Linked DNA regions of Homo sapiens. The protein of the gene in region 1 interacts with the protein of each later gene in a pairwise test. Each region holds a gene or a part of one and is shown in the gene's direction. Other genes may lie near its edges. The genes, in order: HSCB, GLRX5, ETFA, LYRM7, HELZ, SUCLG2 and SDHAF1.

Region 1 (2,986 bases):
CAAGATCACGCCACTGCACTCCAGCCTGGGCAACAAAGCGAGACTCCCTCTCAAAACAAACAAAAAAAAAACCTGAAGGAGGAATGAAGCTATTCTCAGGCAAATAAAAATTGAAGGAATTTGGGCTGGGCGCGGTGGCTCACACTTGTAATCCCAACACTTTGGGAGGCCGAGGCGGGTGGATCAAGAGATCAAGACCATCCTGGCCAACATGGTGAAACCCCATCTCTACTAAAAATACAAAATTAGCCAGGCGCAGTGGCGCGCCTGTAATCCCAGCTACTAGGGAGGCTGAGGCAGGAGAATCGTTTGAACCTGGGAGGCGGAGGCTGCAGTAAGCCAAGATCACGCCACTGCACTCCAGCCTGGTGACAGAGCAAGACTTTGTCTCAAAAAAAAAAAAAAAAAAAATTGGGCCGGGCATGGTTAATGATGCCTGTAACCCCAGCACTTTGAGAGGCTGAGGCTGGCGGATCACAAGGTCAGGAGATTGAGAATATCCTGGCTAACACAGTGAAACCCTGTCTCTACTAAAAATACAAAAAATTAGCCAGGCCTGGTGGTGACCGTCTGTAGTCCCAGCTACTCGGGAGGCTGAGGCAGGAGAATGGCGTGAACCCGGGAGGCGGAGCTTGCAGTGAGCAGAGATCGCGCCACTGCACTCCAGCCTGTGCAACAGAGCGAGACTCCATCTCAAAAAAAAAAAAAAATTTGTTGACAGGAGACCTGCCACGTAAAAAAAATGTTAAAAGAATTGATTGGCTAGGCGTGGTGGCTCACGCCTGTAATCCCCACATTTTGAGAGGCCAAGGTGGGCGGATCACAAGGTCAGGAGTTCGAGACCAGCCTGACAAACATGGTGGAACCCCGTCTCTACTAAAAATACAAAAAGTAGCCAGGCATGGTGGCGCTCGCCTGTAATCCCAGCTACTCCGAAGGCTGAGGCAGGAGAATGGCTTGATCCCGGAAGTCGGAGGTTGCAGTGAGCCGAGATCACGCCAATGCACTCCAACCTGGGTGACAGAATGAGATGCCATCTCAAAAAAAAAAATTATTTAGAGTGGAGGAAATTTATATAGGTCGGAAACTTGGGTCTACATAACGAAAGGAAGACCATTGGAGAAAGGAATAAGTAAATGCAAAATTAAAACTTATTTTTTAAATTGATCTAACAAAGTGTTTTCAAAATAATAAAAGCAACATTAGACCGGGCGTGGTGGCTCACATCTGTAATCCCAGCACTTTGGGAGGCTGAGGCGGGCGGATCATTTGAGGTCCGGAGTTCGAGACCTGCCTGGCCAACATGGTAAAACCCCATCTCTACTAAAAATACAAAAAAATTAGGGTGGCATGGTGGCGGGCGCCTGTAATCCCAGCTACTCAGGAGGCTGAGGCAGGAAGATCGCTTGAACCCGGGAGACAGATGTTGCAGTGAGCTGAGATCGCACCATTGCACTCCAGCCTGGGCGACAAGAGAAAAACTCCAACTCAAAAAAAAAGGATAGAAATTCTGACACCAGCCGGGCACGGTGGCTCACGCCTGTAATCCCAGCACTTTGGGAGGCTGAGGCGGGTGGGTCATGAGGTGAGGAGATCGAGACCATCCTAGCTAACACGGTGAAACCCCGTCTCTACTAAATATACAAAAAATCAGCCAGGCGTGGTGGCGGGCACCTGTAGTCCCAGCTACTCAGGAGGCTGAGGCAGGAGAATGGCGTGAACCTGGGAGGTGGAGCTTGCAGTGAGTGGAGACCACCTCACTGCACTTCGGCCTGGGTGACACAGGGAGACTCCATCTCAAAAAAAAAAGAAATTCTGACACAGGACCGGGCGCGGTGGCTCACGCCTGTAATCCTAGCAGTTTGGGAGGCCAAGGTCGGCAGATCACAAGGTCAAGAGTTCTAGACCAGCCTGGCCAACATGGTGAAACCCCGTCTCTGAAAAATTAGCTGGGTGTGGTGGCAGATGCCTGTAATCCCAGCTACTCAGGAGGCTGAGGCAGGAGTATCGCTTGAAATTGGAAGGTGGAGTTTGCAGTGAGCCGAGATCGTGTCACTGCACTCCTGACGGCAACAAGAGCGAAACTCCATCTCAAAAACAAACAAACAAAAAAAAATCTGACACAGGCTCCAACATGGATGAACCTTGAGGACATTGTACTATGTGAAATGTCAGTCACAAAAGGACAAATACTATATAATTCCACTTATATGAGGTACCTGTGGTAGTCAGATTCATAGAGAAAGTGGAATGGTGGTTGTGGGGGGATAGAGTCAGGAAGAGGAAAATAGAGAGTTATTTCATAAGTAGAGAGCTTCAGTTTTGCAAGATGAAAAGAGTTCTGTGGAAGGTCAGGCACGGTGGCTCCCACCTGTAATCCCAGCACTTTGAGAGACTGAGGCAGACAGATCATCTCAGGGCAGGAATTTGAGACCAGCCTGACCAACATGGTGAAACCCCGTCTTTACTGCAAATACAAAAATTAGCCAGGTGTGATGATGCATGCCTGTAATCCCAGCTACTTGGGAGTCTGAGGCACAAGAATCACTTGAACCCGGGAGGTGGAGGCTGCAGTGAGCCAAGATCATGCCACTGCATTCCAGCCTGGGCAACAAAGCAAGACTCTATCTCAAAAAAAAAAAGTTATGTGGATGGATGGTGGTGATGCTTGCCCAACAATGTGAATGTACTTAATGTCATTGAACTGTACACTTAGAAATGGCTAACATGATGAATTTTATGTCATGTGTTACCAACTTAATTTTTTTTTTTTTTGAGACTGAGTTTTGCTCTTTCGCCCAGGCTAGAGTACTGTGGCATGATCTCAGCTCACTGCAACCTCAGCCTTTCGGTTTCAAGTGATTCTCCTGCCTCAGCCTCCCAAGTAGCTGTGATTACAGGAGCCTGCCACCACACCCGGCTAATTTTTGTATTTTTAGTAGAGATGGGATTTCACCATGTTGGCCAGGCTGGTCTTGAACTCCTG
Region 2 (3,500 bases), on another chromosome or scaffold:
GGCTCATGAGAAGTTAGTATCACTTGCATGTGGCTGTGTGTGTTGGGTGTTGAGAATGTCTGAAAGCCTGCTTGTTTTGATAATTTTGGTGGTAAGGATTCTGGGGGTCTCCCCTTCTCTCGTAGTCAGGACATATGATCAACAGCAACATAAAGTTTAATCAATGAGGCAAGCCCAATGCTTCGATTGAGTGTGATACTATAAAAGTGATTGATGAAAAGCAATTTTACTTTAAAAACATGTATTTTTTGGGTAAAACATGTAGTTTTGGGTAGTTCTCAGGCAGCAAACATTTCCATTTTTGGTGTGTTTCAGAAATTATAGACATCCATCAAAATAAATCAGTAAAAATTGATTATCATGGAAAGCTTCACACAATATATTATTCATTGAAACAAAACAGGTCGTTCATGCACATAAATGATTCATTTGTATAAAAGGTATTTAAGAAAGTTGAAGATAATGAAAAGAAGCTCACGTTTACTTTAAATATTTCTTAATTCTCGCACCCAGCTCTCAGTCATCATAAAGGTAAAAGTTTTGTAATCGGCATCATTGTAAAAAGTGAGTTTTGATAGACTTTGTATTTGAGGACAGAGTTTGAAGAAAGTAAAAAAACACACAAATTATGCTAGTTGTTTTTGTTGATGGAGCATCAAACATCACCATGATGAACAACTTGAATTCATCAGGGTATTCTACTATGTCTAGATATTTGGCATTATAAAGACATTTTGATGATTAATGGAATTTACCCTTTATTGGCAGCTGCCAAAGAGCTAGCTGTTGTTTCTTTACTAGCACCCAGAGTGGCTGAGAGGTGTCCTTTTGGAGGCCTAGAGCAATGTAACCCTTTCTTAATATGTGAAGTCTGGAGAAGGAAGATAAAGCCCTTGGTTCAGGGGCTTTCTTTAGGGCTGTCATTTAGAGCAAAGTCAGTTTTTTTAATAAGGCAATAACTTTTAAGAAAAAAATAAATAGTATATTGGGACTTGTGATATAACTGAAATCAGTAATTTTATTTGGAAAATGTTTGATAATAAATTATAGGGTATCAAGAGCAAGTTTTTGTATTTTTAGTTTGTTTACATAAAAATCGATTTGTGTAAACTGTACTGGACTTGAACAATCTGTTGACTTTTCCGTTTTGTTTATCCATATGCTCATTTTGGCCATTTAAAAATATCTATCTATGTAAATATAAAAGTGTCACATAAGTGTTAGTTATTATATGCCATGCTTTGACCATCTTCGTTTTTAACATGACCAATACAGGCTTTTTAATGGCCGACTATGTTTTTGAAAGCACAGTCATCTCAACATACAAGTAGAAAAGGAAGTAGACTGATGAAGAGGAATGTTAAGAGTAATCTTTTATGTCTTAAGATTGAAGCCACATTTCTTTCTTACCATTTTGTTACAGTCATCATCCTTGTGGCTCAGAATTGAACAGAGTAGTTGCACAGCTGCGCTGTCACAGAGTGTCCCTCATCTCATGTGTGTCCTCAGAGCCATTTGCACACAGGACTGATCACATGCATGCTGGTTGGTTTCTTGGCTGCTGTGAGCGCTTAAGAGCAGAGCGGGTCTCACTCCCCCACCCCTCAGCCCTGGACAGGGACCTTGCTGAGCTCTGGGCCTTCATTAGACTCACCAGTCACTTCGGGTTCTGCACAGAGCCTCATCATCCACTCCACAGAGAGCCCATCACAGTGGCTGGATAGATGGGAACTGACAACCCATAGCTGTGGGACAGGGATTTTTCCCTGGGTAAAAGTAATTGTTAAAAATTAAAAAAAAAAAAAACTCAACAACTCATCATCTCGAGGAGAAGTGACTGACGGCCTGCACCAACTTAGACAGTCACAGTCATGAAAAGTGCACAGGTGGGATTGCCCGAGTTGGCCATGAATTACCGTGATGGATCCATTTGGAAATGAAGTTGGTTGTGACATTTCTTCAAGTTTTGTTTCGCTTGAAGCTTGACTGGTAGATGGAGAATTTTGGCCTTATGTATCTTATGTGACTTGCATTACCCAGTCCAGTCCTCTGCCATTAATCTAAGGTCCGCAATGTATCAGGTATTTTACTGAGAATCTTGCTTACCTAATTCTCACAAAAAAAAAAACCTTGGGAGATGAGGGTGGAAACAGGATGAGAGGTCAGGTGACTTGTCTGAGGGCTGACGGTTTGTAATTGGAAGAGTCAGGGCCTAACCACTGGTCTCTTTGACACAAAAACTCATGCTCTTAGTGGCAAGCACAGTGTTCTCAAGATTGGGGGAAGCCAGGGAGGGACAGTGGGTTGTCTGCTACTAGTGGGTCAAAATTACATATTTAGTCATGAATGGTTCAGCTTTTACCATTTAAATAACAAATAAATGTTCTTTCTCCATAGGCATTAAAGACTATTCCAACTGGCCCACCATCCCGCAAGTGTACCTCAATGGCGAGTTTGTAGGGGGCTGTGACATTCTTCTGCAGATGCACCAGAATGGGGACTTGGTGGAAGAACTGAAAAAGCTGGGGATCCACTCCGCCCTTTTAGATGAAAAGAAAGACCAAGACTCCAAGTGAGGGCGGCCAAGTCCTCGCTGAGCAGAGAGGGAGCCGTTCATGTCAGAGACTCACTGCCAGAAAAGCCTTACCCATTTTGGTTTTCACTATTGAGACCGCAACTGCTTGCACTGATCATTTTGGTTCGTGAGCAGTTGGTGATTTTAGTTGGTCTGGTGTTCGGGCTAAGAATATTTTATTGTGGACTTAATTACAACCACTGCACTGTAATGATTCAATGCTGTATTATGATATTGCTGTAAACAAAATTCATTCTTATATTGTCACTTATTCTTTGCCTGATTCAGAAGTTAAATAGGAGCTTTGGAATCATTATTCATGACCCCTCTGCAAATGTGTCAGTCTCCAAAGAGAGTATCTCCCCCCAAATTTTGTGTAGCTTCTTTTGTTATGGAAAATGGTGAACAAAAAAAGAAACTGTGATAACTGGGGCGTTGTTTTTTAAAATAAACTCCAGCACAGGGATGCTGTGCATGCCTGAGTTGATTCCGAAGTGCATATGTCTGTAAGGATTTGGAGTGCCTGCAGTGTTTTATGTGTGGGAAGTAAGGGTGAGTCTCATATTCTTCTATTAAATTTGCCACAAGAATTGCCGTCGAGCCCTGGTCTACTTTCTGGGGGAAGCAGCTGTTTGGATGGTGAGTCAACTGTGCAGCTGGAGGCGTGGGTGGGCTGGAGGGAGCAGAGGTGGGTGAGGCCGGAGGAGGCGGCCCCACCTGCCTATCTCTGGAGCCCTGTGCTTGGCACACTGCTACAGTTAGATAGGGAGACATCGTCAACAGTCCACCGAGCTAGGGGATTTAATGAGTATTTTACTTCTTAAAAAGTGGGGACTTTCTAAAAGAGGACATAATTTGGAATTGTGGCAGAGATTCTCCCAGTGTCTGGTGTCTTTATAAGACCTTTCCATGAGTTCTGCATCCC
Region 3 (3,500 bases), on another chromosome or scaffold:
CCAGAAAAGGTTTATAGAGGAGGTGACATGCTTAATATGGCAGTTACATAATATGAAAATTTACTCCAGTATATAAAATAGCAAAATTGTTCCAGAATGTATTTGATGTTTGCCTAATTTTTTTTTTTCATCTTTTTAAATGAGGTCGAGGCTTGAAGAGTGGAGAGAACTTTAAGTTGTTATATGACTTGGCAGATCAACTACATGCTGCAGGTAAAGTTATTTTCCTTAGTAGAAAGATATTCCCTTTTTGTTGGAAATATTTTTTCTTCATTATTTCATTTTTGTGTAAGTCTTTCAGCCCTACAAATTATTTTACTTTTCCGGATTTTTCAGTTTTTCTCTCTGAACCAGTTTTTCTTAAGCCTCCAAGTAAATGGTATATAGCATTCAGTGAGGAGAAGGCCTCCTAGTATCTCTTACCTTTGCCTAATCTTAGTAGGTTTTCTTTTTTCTTCACTTTAAAAATAATGAAATGGGCCAGGCGCAGTGACACACACCTGTAATCCTAGCACTTTAGGTTGCTGAGGCAGGAGGACTGCTTGAGCCCAGGAATTTGAGACCAGCCCTAGCAATGTAGTGAGACCCCATCTCTACAAAACGTTTAAAAATTAGCCAGGCATATTGGTGTGTGCTTGTAGTCCCAGGTACTCAGGAGGCTGAGGTGGGAGGATTGCTTGAGCTTGAGAGGTGGAGGCGACAGTGCACTGTGGTCGTGCCACTGCATTCCAGTCTGGGCAACAGAGTGAGACCCTGTCTCAAAAATAATAAAAGACAAAATAATGAAATGTTAGTTTCAGTGCCTACTTCAGATTCAGGAATACCCTGGTTTTTCATCTTTTTTTTGGTGGTCTTAATATAACTCTTATACAAATAGAAATACATTTAAAGTTTTTAAGTTTGTAGTTAAAAATATAGAATTGTAGTTAACCATTTATAGGTAAGGTAGAACCTATTGCTAAAAGTACATTGATGAGAAGGGAGTGATGTTTTTTGAAAAACCAAAAAAATTTAAGCCAGGCACAGTAGCATGTGTCTGTAATCCCAGTTACTTGGGAGGCTGAGTTAGGAGGATTGCTTGAACCTAGGAATTTGAGACCAGCCTAGGCAACCTAATTGAGACCCTGTTTTGAAAAAAAATCTTTTTAAAGACATTTGATTATTTTTGAATTACACAATCACTACAATGAATATATATTAAAATGTCCCAATTCTGTCATCTCACCCTCCTTTTAAGACTTTAACATATAACTTTCGAGGGTTTTCCTGTAACTTTCTGTGGTTTTCCTGTGCGAAATTTCTATTACATAACACGTGTACCCATAGAAACAGTAATAGTTTTGTCAGAATAAAGGCATTATATTGACACTGTATAATCAGATGGTAGTATTTCAGGGTTTATTTTCATTCCTTCTTTCTTTGAACAAGTATTTATCAAGTGTCTGCCATATTCCAGGTACTATTTTAGGTGCTATTAGTTTATTTTGGCTACAGTAATAAGTTACTACAAACTTGGTGGCTTAAAGCAACAAAGTTTTTCTCTCACAGCTTTGGAGGCCAGAGATGTGTTGAAGTGTTAGCAGGGGCCATACTCCCTCTGGGGGCTCTAGGAGATAATCTGTTATTTTCCTCTTCCAGCTTCTGGTGGCTACTCTGATATCCCTGGGCTTGTGGCCACATCACTACAACCTCTGCCTCTGTCTTCATATCATCTTCTCTGTGGGACTGCATTCAGTCTCCTTCTGTGTCCCTCTTATAAGGATACATGGCAGGCGTGGTGGCTCATACCTGTAATGCCAGCACTTTGGGAGGCCAGGGTGGGCGGATCACCTGAGGTCCGGAGTTTGAGACTAGCCTGGCCAACGTGGTGAAACCCCATCTGTACCAAAAATATAAAAATTAGTTTGATGTGGTGGTGCACACCTGTAATCCCAGCTACTTGTGAGGCTGAGGCAGGAGAATTCCTTGAACCTAGAAGGCGGAGGTTGCAGTAAGCTGAGACTGTGCCACTGTACTCCAGCCTGGGTAACAGAGTGAGATGCCGTCTGGAAAAAAAAAAAAAAAAAAAAAAAGGATACGTGTAATGGCATTTAGGGCCCATGTAGATAATCCAGGATAAACTCCCTCTCAAGATCCTTAGCTTTATATATATCTGCTGCCACGTAGGTAATATTCACAGGTTCTGGGTATTAGGATGTGAATATATCATTGGAGGGGCCATTTTCTTGCCTACTACAGACACTTAACACCATAGATTAGTAAATAATATAATATGGGCCAGGCGTGGTGGCTTACGCCTGTAATCACCTGAGGTCAGGAGTTTGAGACCAGCCTGGCCAACATGGGGAAACCCCGTCTCTACTAAAAAATACAAAAATTAGCTGGGCGCAGTGATACGTGCCTATAGTCCCAGCTACTTGGGAGGCTAAGGCAGGAGAAACGCTTGAACCTGGGAGGCAGAGGTTGCAGTGAGCAGAAATCATGTCACTGCACCCTAGCCTGGGCAACAGGGCGAGACTCTGTCTCAAAAAAAAAAAAAAATGTTAGAGAGTCGTAAGTGTTAGGGAGACTAATAGGATGGGTTATGGGGGGTGGAGAATTGAAGGGAAAGATTGAAGTTTAAAATAAGATAGCCAGATTTGGCCTTAATGAGAAAGAGACATCTGGCTGGGTGTGGTGGCTCATGCCTGGAATCCCAGCACTTTGGGAGGCCAAGGCGGGCGGATCACTTGAGGCCAGGAGTTCAAGACCAGTCTGGCCCACGTGGTGAAACCCCGCCTCTACTAAAAATATAAAAATTAGCTAGGTGGGCGGATTTCTTGAGGCCAGGAATTCAAGACCAGCCTGGCCGACATGGTGAAACCCCACCTCTACTAAAAATACAAAAATTAGATGGGTATGGTGGCACGTACCTGTAGTCCTAGCTACTCAGGAGGCTGAGGCGGCAGGATCACTTGAACCATGAGGTGGAGGTTGCAGTGAGCTAAGATTGTGCCACTGTACTCCGGCCTGGGTGACAGAGACACTGTCTGAAAAAAAAAAAAAAAAAAAAGACATCTGAACAAAGGTTTGAAGGAGGTGAGGAAGCGACCCATGAGGAGATCTGAGGGAGAGTGTTCCAGACCAGAGCAACTAGTAAAGTGCACAGAGCCTGTCTAACGCAGGAACACATCTGGCCTATTTGACGAATAGGAAGGAGGCCAGTGTTGGAATGGAAAGTGCAAAAGAGAAAGTAGCAAGAGATAAAATTGGGAGGCAACACAAGACCAGATCACATAGGGCCTTATAGGACATTGTAGAGATTGCTCTTTCTCTGAATGAAATGGGGAACCATTTCAAGGTTTGAGCAGAAGAATGACATGATCTAACACATTTTTAAAGGATCACTTTGGCTGCAGTTTTGTGAATAAGCTGTAGGGGGTAAGTATAGTAATGGGGAGATCAATTAGCAGGCTATATCAGTCGTCTAGGTGGGAGATACTCATAGTTTGGACCAGGGT
Region 4 (3,500 bases), on another chromosome or scaffold:
TCCACTTCCTGGTGATATGAGTTAGGCAAAATAAAATTGGCCGGGATCGCTGGCTCACACCTGTTATCCCGGCACTTTGGGAGGCTGAGGTGGGCAGATCACCTGAGGTCAGGAGTTTGAGACCAGCCCCCTGGCCAACATGGTGAAACCCCGTCTCTACTGAAAAATATAAAAATTAGCCAGGCATGGTGGTGGGCGCCTGTAATCCCAGCTACTCGGGAGGCTGAGGCAGGAGAATTGCTTGAACATGGGAGGCAGAGGTTGCAGTGAGCCGAGATCACAGCCACTGCACTCCAGCCTGGGCGACAGACAGAGCAAGGTTCTGTCTCAAAAAATAATAATAATGATAAATAAAATTGAAAAAGAGGTTGAATGCAGATTAAGCTAGCCCACAAAGCAGAGATAGAAAAAAGTATTACTTTGCTAAAAGGCACAATTCTGTCTACAGCCTAGAGTCTAATTGATTAAGAGTCCCATAATTTAGAGCCTTGGAGAGTTAAAAATGCTAATTGTTCTTATCCACTAAAACTAAAGCCAGTACAAGCAGGGAAATTCTGAGCTGTAACATGAAATAAGATCGATGCCTCAAGACTTTCTCATTCTTCCAGACAAAGATTAGATATATGATTCATTTACTGACTGGAACTTACTATTCTTCATTGCTTTAAGAAGTGGCCCCTAAGGTAAGGGTTAAGGAGATGGGCAGAACGTAGAGGCTGCTACCAAAGGATGACAGTCTTCATCCTTATTTTTCTGTGGCTACTTGTGCATGGAAATGACTGGAAACCAATTTGAAGCTTATAAAGTTTTTGAGTGAATTGTATTGCCAAGAAACTCCAGGCCTGGCTAGCTCTTTTCACCTCTTAAGGCCACCCCTGGGCCCCTAAACTCCTATCACCAGGAAGTAGACTATGAAAGCTTTTAAAGCCCCAAAGAAGGGCATCTTCCCCAGTATCTCCACCTTAGAACAATGAGGCTCAGCAGGACCTAATGGAAACACTAGCACTGTAACCAAACATCCTTGATTTCAGTCTAGATGAGACCTGAGGGGACAGGTAGTGAGTGGATGTATGCTACAGATGGAAAGAAGGATTTATATGCATTTTGCATAGCCAAAGGGGTTGTGCTTGTTGCCTCTCCAGTATCTATTCTCCTGTTCTTTTTTTTTTTTTTTTTTGGAGATAGAGTGTCCTTCTGTCGCTCAGGCTGGAGTGCAGTGGCACGATCTTGGCTCACTGCAACCTCAGCCTCCCGGGTTCAAGCGATTCTCATGCCTCACACCTCCTGAATAGCTGGGACTACCGCTCGGGCAATCCAACCACCTCGGCCTCCTAAAGTACTAGGAGTATAGGTGTGAACCACCGTGCTTGGCTTCTCCTGTTCTTTTTTACTAACTGAGAAATTGTGTTCAGGGTGCAATGTACCAAGCAAAAAAAAAGTTATTTTCCAGACCATGTGACACCTTTCTGGTCTATATAAACCGTGTCTATTCGGTGTTACTTCCAAGAAAGTCATTGTTTTCCTGTTTAAAAGGAGCAGGCTGAGCTGGCACTCTCCTTTTGCCCTTTTCTCTCTTCTTCCCATCTGGAGTGCAGATGTGATATGACAAGCAGCAGTGAAGACAAAACCACTCATGGAAGGTAGCAGAACAGGAAGAGAGAAAGAGCCTGGGTCCTTAGTATCACTAAGGACAAGCACTAGCCCAGAACTGCCTTAATCTGTATTTCTTTTTTTTTTTTTCCGAGATGGAGTCTAGCTCTGTCGCCCAGGCTGAAGTACAGTGGCACGATCTCGGCTCACTGCAACCTCTGCCTTTGGGTTCAAGCGATTCTCCTGCCTCAGCCTCCCTGGTAGCTGGTGCCTGCCACCACGCCCAGCTAATTTTTGTATTTTTAGTAGAGACAGGGTTTCACTGTGTTGGCCAGGCTGGTCTCGAACTCCTGACTTTGTGATCCGCCCACCTCGGCCTCCCAAAGTGCTGTGATTACAAGCATGAGCCACCATGCCTGTCCTTTAATCTGTATTTATTGATAATGTGAGAAAAATTAAATCTCTTACTTATTTAAACCAGCTTTTGGACTTTGGTTATTCAGAACTGAACATACTCTAAAGTGATATGGGTATATTTAACCATTTATTTTTCCATTCTCCCATAAAAGTCTTGTTCCACTTTTGTAACACATGACATTATACTATAATTTGTTGTTTATCTAGCTATCTTTTCCATTAGATTGTGAGTTTCTGGAAGCTGAAGAGACTATTATATATTCACCTTCATATCTTAATTTCTTGATGTAATGTCTAGCATGAAATAGGCACATATAGGTTTGATAAGTGAAACAAATTATTGCCATTGTTAACAAGTTAAAATGCACACTACAATTTATTCTCTGATGAAATCTCCATAGGTTTGGTAAAAGCAAGTGAGATATAAACAATGGTTAAATAATACTTATTTAACTGGTTTTCATTTCAGTAAGCCAAATTTATCATCTGGCTAATAAGAGCACTATTCTTAGTCAGACCAGTTCTTTCTTAATTAAGTGAAATATTCAGTTTGCCTTTTGGGTTGAATTTGTTTTAGTGTTGTCTTCTGTCTTTTTTTTTTTTTTTTTTTTTTGAGAGAGAGAGTCTGTCTCCCAGGCTGGAGTGCAGTAGCATAATTATTGCTCACTGTAATCTCAAACTCCTGGGCTCAAGCAATCCTCCTGCCTCAGCCTCTTGAGTAGCTAGGAATACAGGTGTGCACCACCATGCCTAGCTAATTTTTAAACAATTTTTTGTAGAGACAGAGTCTCGCTGTGTTTCCCAAGCTGGTCTCAAACTCCTGGCCTCAAGCAATCTTCCCACCTCAGCTTCCCAAAGTGCCAGAATTACAGGCATGAGCCGCTGCATCTGGCCACTGTGTGTGTGTGTGTGTGTGTGTGTGTGTGTGTGTGTGTAAATATATATATTTTTAAAACCTTTTTATTTTGAAATAATTCAGATTTACAAAAAAAGTGCAAAAGTTGAAGGGTATGAGAATTTCCTTTACCCAGATTCTACAAATGCTAACATTTTACCATATTTGCCTTATTGTGTTTCCCTCATTTTTTTTTCCTGAACTTTCTGAGAGTAAGTTGCAGACATAATGCCTATTTACCCCAAATGAACATTTTTAGAATTATGACAGCCCATTTGGGTCTAGATCTCCTGGAGAAATACCTTAGAGTATATTTTTTTAAGATACTTCAGTGTGTATTTCCTAAATATACAAGGACATTCTCTAATGTAACTGCAATATAATGACCAAAACCAGGGTATTAATATTGATGCAATGCTATCATTTAATCTTTCCATTTGTCCTAATAATGTATTTTATGGCAAAAGGAAAAAAAATTCCCTGTGGACCAGTATCCTATTGGGGATCACACATTGCATGTAGTCATCATGTCTCTTTAGGTATCCTTAATCTAGAGCAGTCCTTCAGTCTTTCTTCGTCTTTCATGTCCATGATGTTT
Region 5 (3,500 bases), on another chromosome or scaffold:
CTTAGTGAATGTATAGAAGGAGTAAAGGTAGAGCACAATCCTGACCTGTCAGTTACTGTCAGCACCAAAAAATCCCACCAGACATGGACCTTTGCTCTCACTTGTAAGGTATGAATTTTGTGCTAGTTAAAGCATAAAAGTTGTGTTTAATTTTCTGAACGTTTTTTTGACCTTTGAATCTCTGTGTTAAAGAATATTGAAAATATTTTAATCTAAGTACATTATATATAGGTTCTATATTGTACTAAAGTATATTTCTGTACTTTGATCATTAAAAGTACAATTTTAAAAATACTTTTAGATGAGATCTTTGTAGATATTTAGGGTGCTTTCATATTTATTTATTTGGTAAAGAGATCTTTGACATATTGTCTTCTAAACTTGGGACATAGGATGGGGTTCATGGCTTGTAATTAACTACTTAAAAATTGTTTATTCTAGTAGTTCTAAGATTTTTAAACCATAACAACTTGTTTTTATATTTGATATGATGAAGTCACAAATTCTGTGATAATGGGTTTTTAATATGGGGCATTTTCTGCAGTGCTTCCCATCTTAAATTATAGTAGTCAAAGTTTAAGATCGAAGCAAAGTAAAAAGTTTCTGTGAGTATGCTCAGTGGAAAAGTTTTTGTCTTTTTTGTGGCATTTCTTCTGCTGTACTTTCTGTATCTGGAGATGAAAAATCTAAGAACAGTTAGCTTCAGCCTTGAACCCAATCCAGTGCTTTCAGAGGTAACTGCCCTCTTACGAAGGCTTCCTACTTGAGGCTACATGAAACTTCTGTAGGTGAAGAGTATGGAAAGTTTGAAGGTTGATGGTTATATAGGGTGATAGCTTTTGCCACAGTGAAAAATGAACATGTCACAGGAAGAGAAGGGAGGCTAGCGATATAGCATAAATAAATAATTTTAACAACTGATTTTAAAAAACCATTCTGATTTTTTTCTTAAATGGCTATAGTATCTTAGAAGCTTGGGGAAGTAAAAGTCCCTTATGGAAATATTTTCATTGAAGAGCCCAATTACAATTGGATTTTTCACCCCCTTGTACTCAATGAATTATTTTAACTTCCTTGTAGCCTGCAAGAATGCTGTATCGTGTAGCATTGCTTTATGATGCTCATCGTCCTCATTTTAGTATCATTGCAATATCTGCCGGAGATAGTACTACCCAGGTATCACAAGAAGTCCCAGAAAACTGTCAAGAATGGATAGGAGGAAAGATGGCCCAAAATGGATTAGATCATTACGTGTATAAAGTCGGGATAGCATTTAACACAGAAATATTTGGAACTTTTCGCCAAACCATAGTTTTCGACTTTGGATTGGAACCAGTACTCATGCAAAGAGTAATGATTGATGCAGCTTCTACAGAAGGTAATATTTAGACTTTTTTCCCCCGATACAATGTGTTAAAAAGCAACATTCAAAGATATGTATTGGCCCCTGAATATATTCCATGGATAGGAAGAGAATAGTAATAAAGAAAAAAATCCCAACTTAATTGACTCATTTACTGTGTAATGGGCTTATAATGATTCACACTGTGCCCTGATTTCTTCACAGAGCCACCAGGTAAAGCTTGAACTTTGAGGTTCCCCAAACTTGTATGAGTAGATGATCAGACCTGTTTTGGTCTACCAGTTTCATTTCACAGTAAGATGGTTTTAGCACAGTAATATCTTTCAATATTAGTTTGGGTAGAATATCATTTTAATGGTAATTGTGTATATACCTACAATGTTTATTTTCATGTCCTATTGACTAGTTAACTTTGCTGATGTTAGTACATTGTTTCTGAATGAAAAGTCTTGAGTATAATAAGCCTTCATAAATCAGTTTGTGCATCCACTAGTGTTAAGGAGGCCAAGGGTGCCTTTAATCAAATCTGCTCTTTGTTTTTGGGAAGAGGTCCCTGGTTTCATCATGTAAGCATGACATAAGGAATTACTTTGTACATTGTCAATTTATTGCCTATATCTAAATTTTATGCCAAGATCCAACAGGACAAAGAAAGGACATGTTAGCCCACATTTCCTTTGCTCTTGGTTGGATTTATAGGTGTTCTATTCTATTTAACAAAAACTTTTTATTTAACAAACACTTCAAAAAGCAGAGCTGTGTGAAACTTGCTTTTGTATTGACTATAACTAACCATATTGTGGAGGACGTTTTTTACTATGTACCATAATGTCCCATTCATGAGAACCTAGAAGTAGTTTTTCTCATTAGCGAATGCTAGAATTTTATTTTTTTTCACATAGTGAAAAGGTGAAATTGGTCTGTCTTCCTCTTTACTTTAGCTGCTAGTAAGGTTGAAACAACGATGGTGCCCAAATTTAACAGTTAGGTGACATCTTCTTCTACGTGTGCTAAGATTACCCAGACTTCACTTTACCCTTATTTCCCACTGACTTTGATCCCTTTTACTTGTTTTTATTCTGTAGTATGTATTTTTGTCATCTTTTCAGTACTCTTTGGAATCAGAATAAATTAATTTCCATAGCTAAATAGATATGGTAGTTGATAAAATAAAAATAAAGTATTTGGCTTATATATATTAGCATAGTATTTGGCAAATTCTTTCTGCAGAGGGCCAGACGGTTAATATTTTAGGTGTTGCAGGGCAGGTGATCTCTGTTGCAACTACTCAGCTCTGCGTCGTAATGAGAAAGCAGCCATAGACAATGCATAAGCAAATGGGTGTGACTGTGTTCCAATAAAACTTTATTTTCAAAAACAATGGCTACATTTGACTTTCGTGTTGTAGTTTGCCTACCCCTGAACTAGTAAGTTGCTTTTAGAGACCAGACCTTGAGAACCACTAAGCAGCATCCTTTTTAAATCATAAAGAGATTTAAGTCATAAAGAGAGAACAACATACATTTCCTACTCTCAAATATAACTGTAAAGGATGTTCTTGGCTTACATGTGGGTTGTATTTTAGAAATTTGCTTGTAGGTTAGTGGCTTATAACTCAGACTCCTTTACCCATAGAAATGTTTGTAAGTGCTGTCAAGAATTCTTATTAGTTAGTAAAATATTTAATTAATAATATAAAATGTTAAATGTCTGCAGTAAAATGTAAAAGAACGATAGTATTAAAACATGATAATTAGAAAAGGTGGTGATGAAAAGGAGCTCAGGGTACTTTCATAGGCTTGAGAAGAGTAAAAGTACTTTGACTACTTCTGCCTCAGATACGAGTTACTTTTCTTGTTGGAGAAGAGCAGAGGACAAAAATCAGAGTCAAATAGAATAGGATTTGAATCCTGATTTTCGACTTATTGCCTGTGTGAGCCTGGGCAGAGTACTTAACTTCTCTGGGCTTCACGGGGAAACATCTGTAAAATGGGGCTAGTAATACCTGTCATAGATCATTGTGACAACCTGAAGCCTCGTACGACATCAGGCTCATAGTAGACGTTTAGTTAATAGTAGCTATTATGTTTATAATTAGCCTTGATTAGGATAATTTCTGGCTTATACACAAAAGGAA
Region 6 (3,500 bases), on another chromosome or scaffold:
AAAGGAGGTGTTCATTTAACAAAAGAGTAAGTCTGGAGGTTGTTATTCCTTGTCTTTTGGCCAAGCAGTTATGGAAGATCTTGCTCAAGATTGAAAGGCACACTGAGGTTGGTTGTGGTGGGGTAGGAGCGGGCCAAAGCAACTAGAAGAAACTGAAATCATAGGTAGAGGGCTCTGGCAGTGCCCTAGTTTTCCTTCTGCCCCCACAAAATGATTTTTCTTACTAATTGGTGAAAACTTGACAGTCCTTCTGTCCTAAACAATCAATGATTCATCATAAATGTTGGAAATGATACCACTTCCAACTGAAATGCTACTTCCATAATGTCACTCCTCTATTCAAGGACCTGAAGGGACTCCCCATTACCAGTGGCATCTGGGGTACCTCCCCTCTGATAGTCCAAGCCTTCCTTTATTTGAGCCTGTCTTTTCAACTTCATCTCCTGCATCTCCTAGCACTGAACACTTTCCTCTCCTCCCTGTTCCTGTCACACACCTTTTTACTATTTACTTTGATCTTTACCCTCTTCCTTTCCCTCTCATTGTTCAATATCTCCCCAGTTTTCCACTGTCGGATCTTCAGTCAACCCTTATCTGAATCTGGTGTGCATTTCAGCATTCTCTCTTTACTATGACTGTAACTTTTTTGGGTGAAGAGGTCACAAAGCATCTTTTGTTTCATTTATTCATTCATGAACTCACTTTTATTTTGCTCTCAGTGAGCCTCTAGTACAGTGCTAAACACGCAGCACATAAGCAGAAAGACTCATGGATTTTGTGAGGGTGAAGGTGAACCCTTTGCAGTGTAGACATGAGGCTCTGTGTAAGGACTCTCATTTAAATGATTTTCAACAAACATTCATTTTCTGCTTGTTTTCTCTTTCTCTTAGCCCTAATGTTGTGGGACAGCTGGCTAAACAGATGATTGGGTACAATCTAGCGACAAAACAAACTCCAAAAGAAGGTGTGAAAGTTAACAAGGTAATATGGATACTTTGGGTCATTTTCTATATATGTGTTAAAAAATAGAAAAGAAAACCATCCTTCAGTTTTTGACAGAATCTAATGAAGTACTGCTCTTTGGCAGTGTGCCATTTTATTTTTTAAAGCTCATCTAATCTGTTTAGTAAGTAGTATGTCTTGGAGGAGAAATAAAAAGGGCTCTATGATAGTAATATTATTTATTATCATTAGCATTTAGCAAAAAGTGGGTGAGGGTGAGTGACCGAGCAATGGCTTTCCCTCTGAGAACACAGATGCATTCTATTTAGTTGAGAAGCGCTTGCTGTGACAGCCTTATACTCAGTGAGGGACATTCGCTGCTCCCACACAGTGGCCCTCAACCCCAGGCGTGTCTGTCAGAATTACCTATTGTGGTTGTTTTTCTAAATGCCCCATTCCTTATTTTAGGATGACTGTAATTTTGAGCCATTTTTATTGCTGGGGGTATATTGCATTAGGAAGGTCAGCTGAAGTACCCAAGTATGTATAGCATGTGGACACACACCCCTCATCCACACATAGAAAATAAAGCCCAGAGGAAAGTGGCCTGCCTCAGTCATGAAATTGTGAGTGGTAGAGCTGAGACCAGAACCTAACTCTCCCTCCTGCCAATCTACCTTTCACCATCCCTTTTGTGTATCCAGACACTAGAACTAGCTACCTGGGTTGCAGAATCCAGTGCCAAATAAAAAGGCAGGGACCCGTGTTAAAATTTCAAGACAGCTATAGCTAAACATTAAATCCCTTTACAACTACACAGATCACATGTGTCAGCCCTGAAAAGCATCCATGGTTAGAAGATCCTGTCCTAACAGCGAATTAGGGTCCTGCATTTTGGGGTGGCAGCTGTCTGCTCTGTTGACATAGCGTCACAGATCAGTGGTCTCTACCAATGCACCATGCTGCAGGACACTGCAGTGGTGACATCCTGTTTTTACTTTTCAGGGAGAGTTTTGTGGAAAACTCTTAAGTTGTTGTATTTATCAGTATTTAGTTCCATTTTCTTTTGTTAATTTTTGTGGGTACATAGTAGGTGTATATATTTATAAGGTACATGAGATGTTTTGATATAGGCATACAATGTGTAATAATCCCGTTACAGTCCTTTTTCTTGCTATGTAGCAATCTATGATATGGATGTACCTACCACAGTTTGTTTAACCATCATCTGTTGAAAGACATCTGGGTTGGTTCGTTTTTGGCTATTACAAATAAAGCCACTCTAGACATTCATGAACAGGTTTTTGGTATAAATATAAATCTTCATTTTGGGGGATAATTGTTGGGTTATGTGGAAGTTGTATAATTAGTTTTTTTAAGAAACTGATGAATGTTTTCCAGCATGGCTGTTCCATTTTACATTGCCATCAGCAATGTGTAAGTGGTCAGGGTTCTCCACATTCTAGCCCGCATTTGGTGGTGGTGGTATTATTTTAGCCATTCTTATGGGTGTGTAGTGATATTTCATTGTGATTTTAATTTGCATTTCCCTAATGGCTAAAGATGTTGAACATCTTTTCATGTGCTTATTTGCCATCTGTAGATTGTGGTTGGTGAATTGTCTGTTCATGGATGCTATGGTCTGAATGCTCCCTCCAAAATGCATGTTGAAATTTAATCCCCATTGTGGTTTGCATTAAGAGGCAGAGCCTTTTGGGAAGTGATTAGTCATGAAGGCTCTGCCCTCATGAATGGATTAGTGCAGGCTTGTCCAACCCACGGCCCACAGGCCACAGGCATCCCAGGATGGCTTTGAAAGTGGCCCAAGACAAATTTGTAACCTTTCTAAACATTATGAGATTTTTTTTGCAATTTTAGTTTCTTAGCTCAGCTATTGTTAGTGTTAGTGTATTTTATGTGCGGCCCAAGACAATCCTTCTTATGCCATTGTGGCCCAGGGAAGCCAAAATATTGGACATCCCTGGTAGTGCTTTATAAAAGGGCTGAAGGGAACTAGCTTAGACCTGTTTTGCATTTCCACTTTCTGCCATGTGAGGATGAAGCAAGAAAGGCCATATCACTAAATGGCGGTGCACTGATCTTGGACTTCCCAGCCTCCAGAACTGTGAAACAATATATTTTTGTCCTTTATAAATGACCAAATCTCAGGTATTTTGTAACAGCAGCATGAAGAGACAAAGCAAATTTCTTTTGGCCATTTTCTAATTAGATTATGTTTTTACTATTGAGTTTTGAGTTATTCTAGGTACTAGTCCACTGTTGGATATGTGCTTTGTAAGTATTATCTGTTACACTATATAACGTATATATTCATTTTTTCAACAGGGTCATTTGCAGGGCAAAAGTGTTTAATTTTGATGAAGTCCAATACGTCAATATTTCCTTTATGGATTATACCTTTTTAGTATCAGGTCTAAGTCCTCTTTACGTTGCCCTACATAATAAAAATTTTCTCATGTTTTTTTCTAGATGTTTTATAGTTTTATGTTTTATATTTAGGTTTGTGATCCATTTTGAGTTGACTTTTGAATAAGTTG
Region 7 (2,868 bases), on another chromosome or scaffold:
TCTCCTCTCTGAAGGGGAATGGACCCCCCAGCTGGTTGCCGGCCCAAGTGTGCAGAGCCGCGGTTGCGCGCTGGGTGGAGGGGTCCCCCAAGCTCCGGTGCTGGTGGGGCCCGAGGATGCTGTGTCCTTGCGGGCCTCCCTAGCGCTACGAGGACACCTCCAGGCGGCCCGCGGGGACAACAACGGCATTGCGGCCTACCACCTAAAGCTCCTGGGAGGACAACGGGGTTGCAGTCTAGTCGACTGTTCAGGGTGTCCCGGACTCCGGGCTTTAACAGTCGGTAAGGACCCAAACACCGCTGTCCACTGCCCCGACTCCCACCCGCAGAGGGCGCGACCAACCCAGCTCCTAGAGCCACACGCTGCCTCTGGGGGCTTGGCGCCCACACTCTCTCTGCTTGTCTTCCCCTGGCCCGAGAAGCCTGTCCAACCGGCCGAGAGCCATTTCCCTACGGGGTCTCGTCCCTCTGCACGTGCCCAGGGCTGGGACCCCAGACACAGACCTGCCCCGGACGAGGGAACGCACGGAGCTTCCCAAGATGGTTTGAATCAGTAACTGACGGCAAAAGCACGCTTGTGCCCGGCGTCTCTCCCAGTGCCCCGTGCCCTTGGGACCCAAAGTCCGAACCGGTAGCCGGGCGCGGTGGCTCACGCCTGGAATCCCAACACTTTGGGAGGCTGAGAATCGTTTGAGCCCAGGAGTTCGAGCCATTCTGGGCAACATAGGGAGACCCATCTCTGCAAATAATAATAATAATAAATAAATAAATAAATAAATAAATAAATAAATAAATAGCGGGCGCGGTTGCGCGCGTCTGTGGTTCCAGCTACTAGGGGAGTTGAGGTGGGAGGATCGCTTGGGCCCAGGAGTTCGAGGCTGCAGTGAGCCAAGATCGCGCCACTGCACTCCAGCCTGGGCGACAGCGAGACCCCGTCACACACAAAAAAACCCCTAGCTTCCTCTTCTCCCAGAATGCAGGAGTTAGGTGAGGACCCTCTGTTCCCTCCAACCCAAGACCTAGGAGTCCGAACACATAACGCCCTCCAGGCGGTGCCAGGATCCCCAGAACTGCTGTCCCCTCAAGAACACACGTCCCCTACGTGGGAGGCCGCGACCAGCGACTCCGCCCACTTCTCCCAGCCGGCTGTTACGTAACTGCAACGACAGCCAGTCAGACGCGGCAGCGCCGGATGGCGGGAGGCGGGAGTTGGAGGCCAAGGGAAGCGCTGGGCGGAAGTGGCTGTGGCTTTGCCCTTTGGCCTTTGCTGGCTGTGTGGCGGCTCCGCGGTTCGCAGGTCGTTCGCTGAGCGTCTCTGCTTAGCCGCGGTCATGAGCCGGCACAGCCGGCTGCAGAGGCAGGTTCTGAGCCTGTACCGCGATCTGCTGCGCGCCGGGCGTGGGAAGCCGGGCGCCGAGGCGCGAGTGCGGGCAGAGTTCCGGCAGCATGCGGGCCTGCCGCGGTCCGACGTGCTGCGCATCGAGTACCTGTACCGCCGCGGGCGGCGCCAGCTGCAGCTGCTACGCTCGGGCCACGCCACCGCCATGGGCGCCTTCGTACGCCCGCGGGCCCCGACCGGGGAGCCTGGCGGCGTGGGTTGCCAGCCTGACGACGGCGACAGTCCAAGGAACCCCCACGACAGCACGGGGGCACCGGAGACCCGCCCCGACGGACGGTGACAGGCGAAGAGCCGAACTCGCTCGATGGCGTGGTGGAGCCAGGAGGCTCGCCTGACTGCATGGGGGGACTGGGGAACCCGCCTAAGGTGAGAGGTCTTAAGAGACTAGCTTGACGAATTGGGGATGTCAGAGACTCCTCCTTGGCGACGCAGGGGGCCTAGAGAGCCCCGTGATGGACGGCAAGGGAGGCCCGCCTTTTCCGATGCTTGGAGACAGGTCGGTGCTCCTCCCCCATGAGGGCTTGGGGCGGCCTGGGACGCTGGCGGGCTGGACAGTGTCAAGCCAAGAGCTACTTGCCCGAAGGTACGGGGAGCCAGGACGACCCCCGGTGGACAGGGAGAGCCTGAGACGCCCTTCTCTTGACCCCTGAGAACATACCCACTTCTGGCTCCTCAAGGAGTCTCCCCTCTCCTGTATTTAACTCTGAGAAGTGCAGACTTTTTGCTGAGAACGTTTTGGGAAGGTGCCCTGATGAGCGGTGAGAAGCCCGGAATCCCCTTCTGGAAAACTTTCCCCCATTAATTGTGACAAGCCAGGACCATGAGGAAGGGGTAGGGGTCTATCACCCTGGTTGATCAACTGAAGACCCCCAAAGGCCCCTACTTGATGGTTTTGAGGGGCAACATTGACTCATTTGCCCCTTCCCTCTCGGAATGTTGGACAAAGGGAATAAAATTGGGGATATGTCTACTTCCCTGTTGGTGGTCTTAAAGCTTTTATATATTTCAGGATTTTTGAAACACCCCCAGCCCCCCTGCCACCACACACACACGCACACAGACACCTGGAAGGGACCATCTGGGAGGTGATAGGTGTGGGGATCTGACTCCTTCCGGAGCCCTGTAGACTGGCACATTGATTGAAGCGGCATAGTTTTCTCCCCTGGGCAGATCTGTGGAGGGGGCTCATCCTGGCTTAACCCCCAAAGATACCCCAGTTGGCTCCCTAATGGAGGGCAAGTGATTTAACATCTTTGTGTGGAAGAGGAAATGGTGGAGCTGAGAACTGGCTCGGAGCCCCTGAGGCAGTAGTGAGGGTCTCAGACCTGGAAATTTCTCAAACCTGGCTGAAGGGTCCAGCCTCAGCTACAGTGAACGACAAGGCCCTGGGGCAGGAGAGGGGAGATGAACCCCATAGATCACAGATATACTCCCTCCGGTGTCCCCATATGGGCCTGCCCTAGACATTCT

Evidence for each region.
Region 2: the proteins of HSCB (region 1) and GLRX5 interact in binary tests that used the Homo sapiens proteins (3 or more experiments, as listed by UniProt).
Region 3: the proteins of HSCB (region 1) and ETFA interact in binary tests that used the Homo sapiens proteins (3 or more experiments, as listed by UniProt).
Region 4: the proteins of HSCB (region 1) and LYRM7 interact in binary tests that used the Homo sapiens proteins (3 or more experiments, as listed by UniProt).
Region 5: the proteins of HSCB (region 1) and HELZ interact in binary tests that used the Homo sapiens proteins (3 or more experiments, as listed by UniProt).
Region 6: the proteins of HSCB (region 1) and SUCLG2 interact in binary tests that used the Homo sapiens proteins (3 or more experiments, as listed by UniProt).
Region 7: the proteins of HSCB (region 1) and SDHAF1 interact in binary tests that used the Homo sapiens proteins (3 or more experiments, as listed by UniProt).

What each region holds. Positions count from the first base shown.
Region 1 is NC_000022.11:28,752,039-28,755,024, forward strand, and holds part of HSCB (iron-sulfur cluster co-chaperone protein HscB isoform 1 precursor), read left to right. Parts: intron 1-2,986.
Region 2 is NC_000014.9:95,541,550-95,545,049, forward strand, and holds the end of GLRX5 (glutaredoxin-related protein 5, mitochondrial precursor), read left to right. Parts: intron 1-2,397; coding exon 2,398-2,576; 3' UTR 2,577-3,165; downstream 3,166-3,500.
Region 3 is NC_000015.10:76,280,470-76,283,969, reverse strand, and holds part of ETFA (electron transfer flavoprotein subunit alpha, mitochondrial), read left to right. Parts: intron 1-144; coding exon 145-213; intron 214-3,500. UniProt on the Homo sapiens protein: Heterodimeric electron transfer flavoprotein that accepts electrons from several mitochondrial dehydrogenases, including acyl-CoA dehydrogenases, glutaryl-CoA and sarcosine dehydrogenase.
Region 4 is NC_000005.10:131,194,944-131,198,443, forward strand, and holds part of LYRM7 (complex III assembly factor LYRM7), read left to right. Parts: intron 1-3,500.
Region 5 is NC_000017.11:67,186,197-67,189,696, reverse strand, and holds part of HELZ (probable helicase with zinc finger domain), read left to right. Parts: coding exon 1-108; intron 109-1,080; coding exon 1,081-1,378; intron 1,379-3,500. UniProt on the Homo sapiens protein: May act as a helicase that plays a role in RNA metabolism in multiple tissues and organs within the developing embryo.
Region 6 is NC_000003.12:67,525,613-67,529,112, reverse strand, and holds part of SUCLG2 (succinate--CoA ligase [GDP-forming] subunit beta, mitochondrial isoform 2 precursor), read left to right. Parts: coding exon 1-26; intron 27-890; coding exon 891-981; intron 982-3,500. UniProt on the Homo sapiens protein: GTP-specific succinyl-CoA synthetase functions in the citric acid cycle (TCA), coupling the hydrolysis of succinyl-CoA to the synthesis of GTP and thus represents the only step of substrate-level phosphorylation in the TCA.
Region 7 is NC_000019.10:35,993,945-35,996,812, forward strand, and holds SDHAF1 (succinate dehydrogenase assembly factor 1, mitochondrial), read left to right. Parts: upstream 1-1,243; 5' UTR 1,244-1,330; coding exon 1,331-1,678; 3' UTR 1,679-2,368; downstream 2,369-2,868.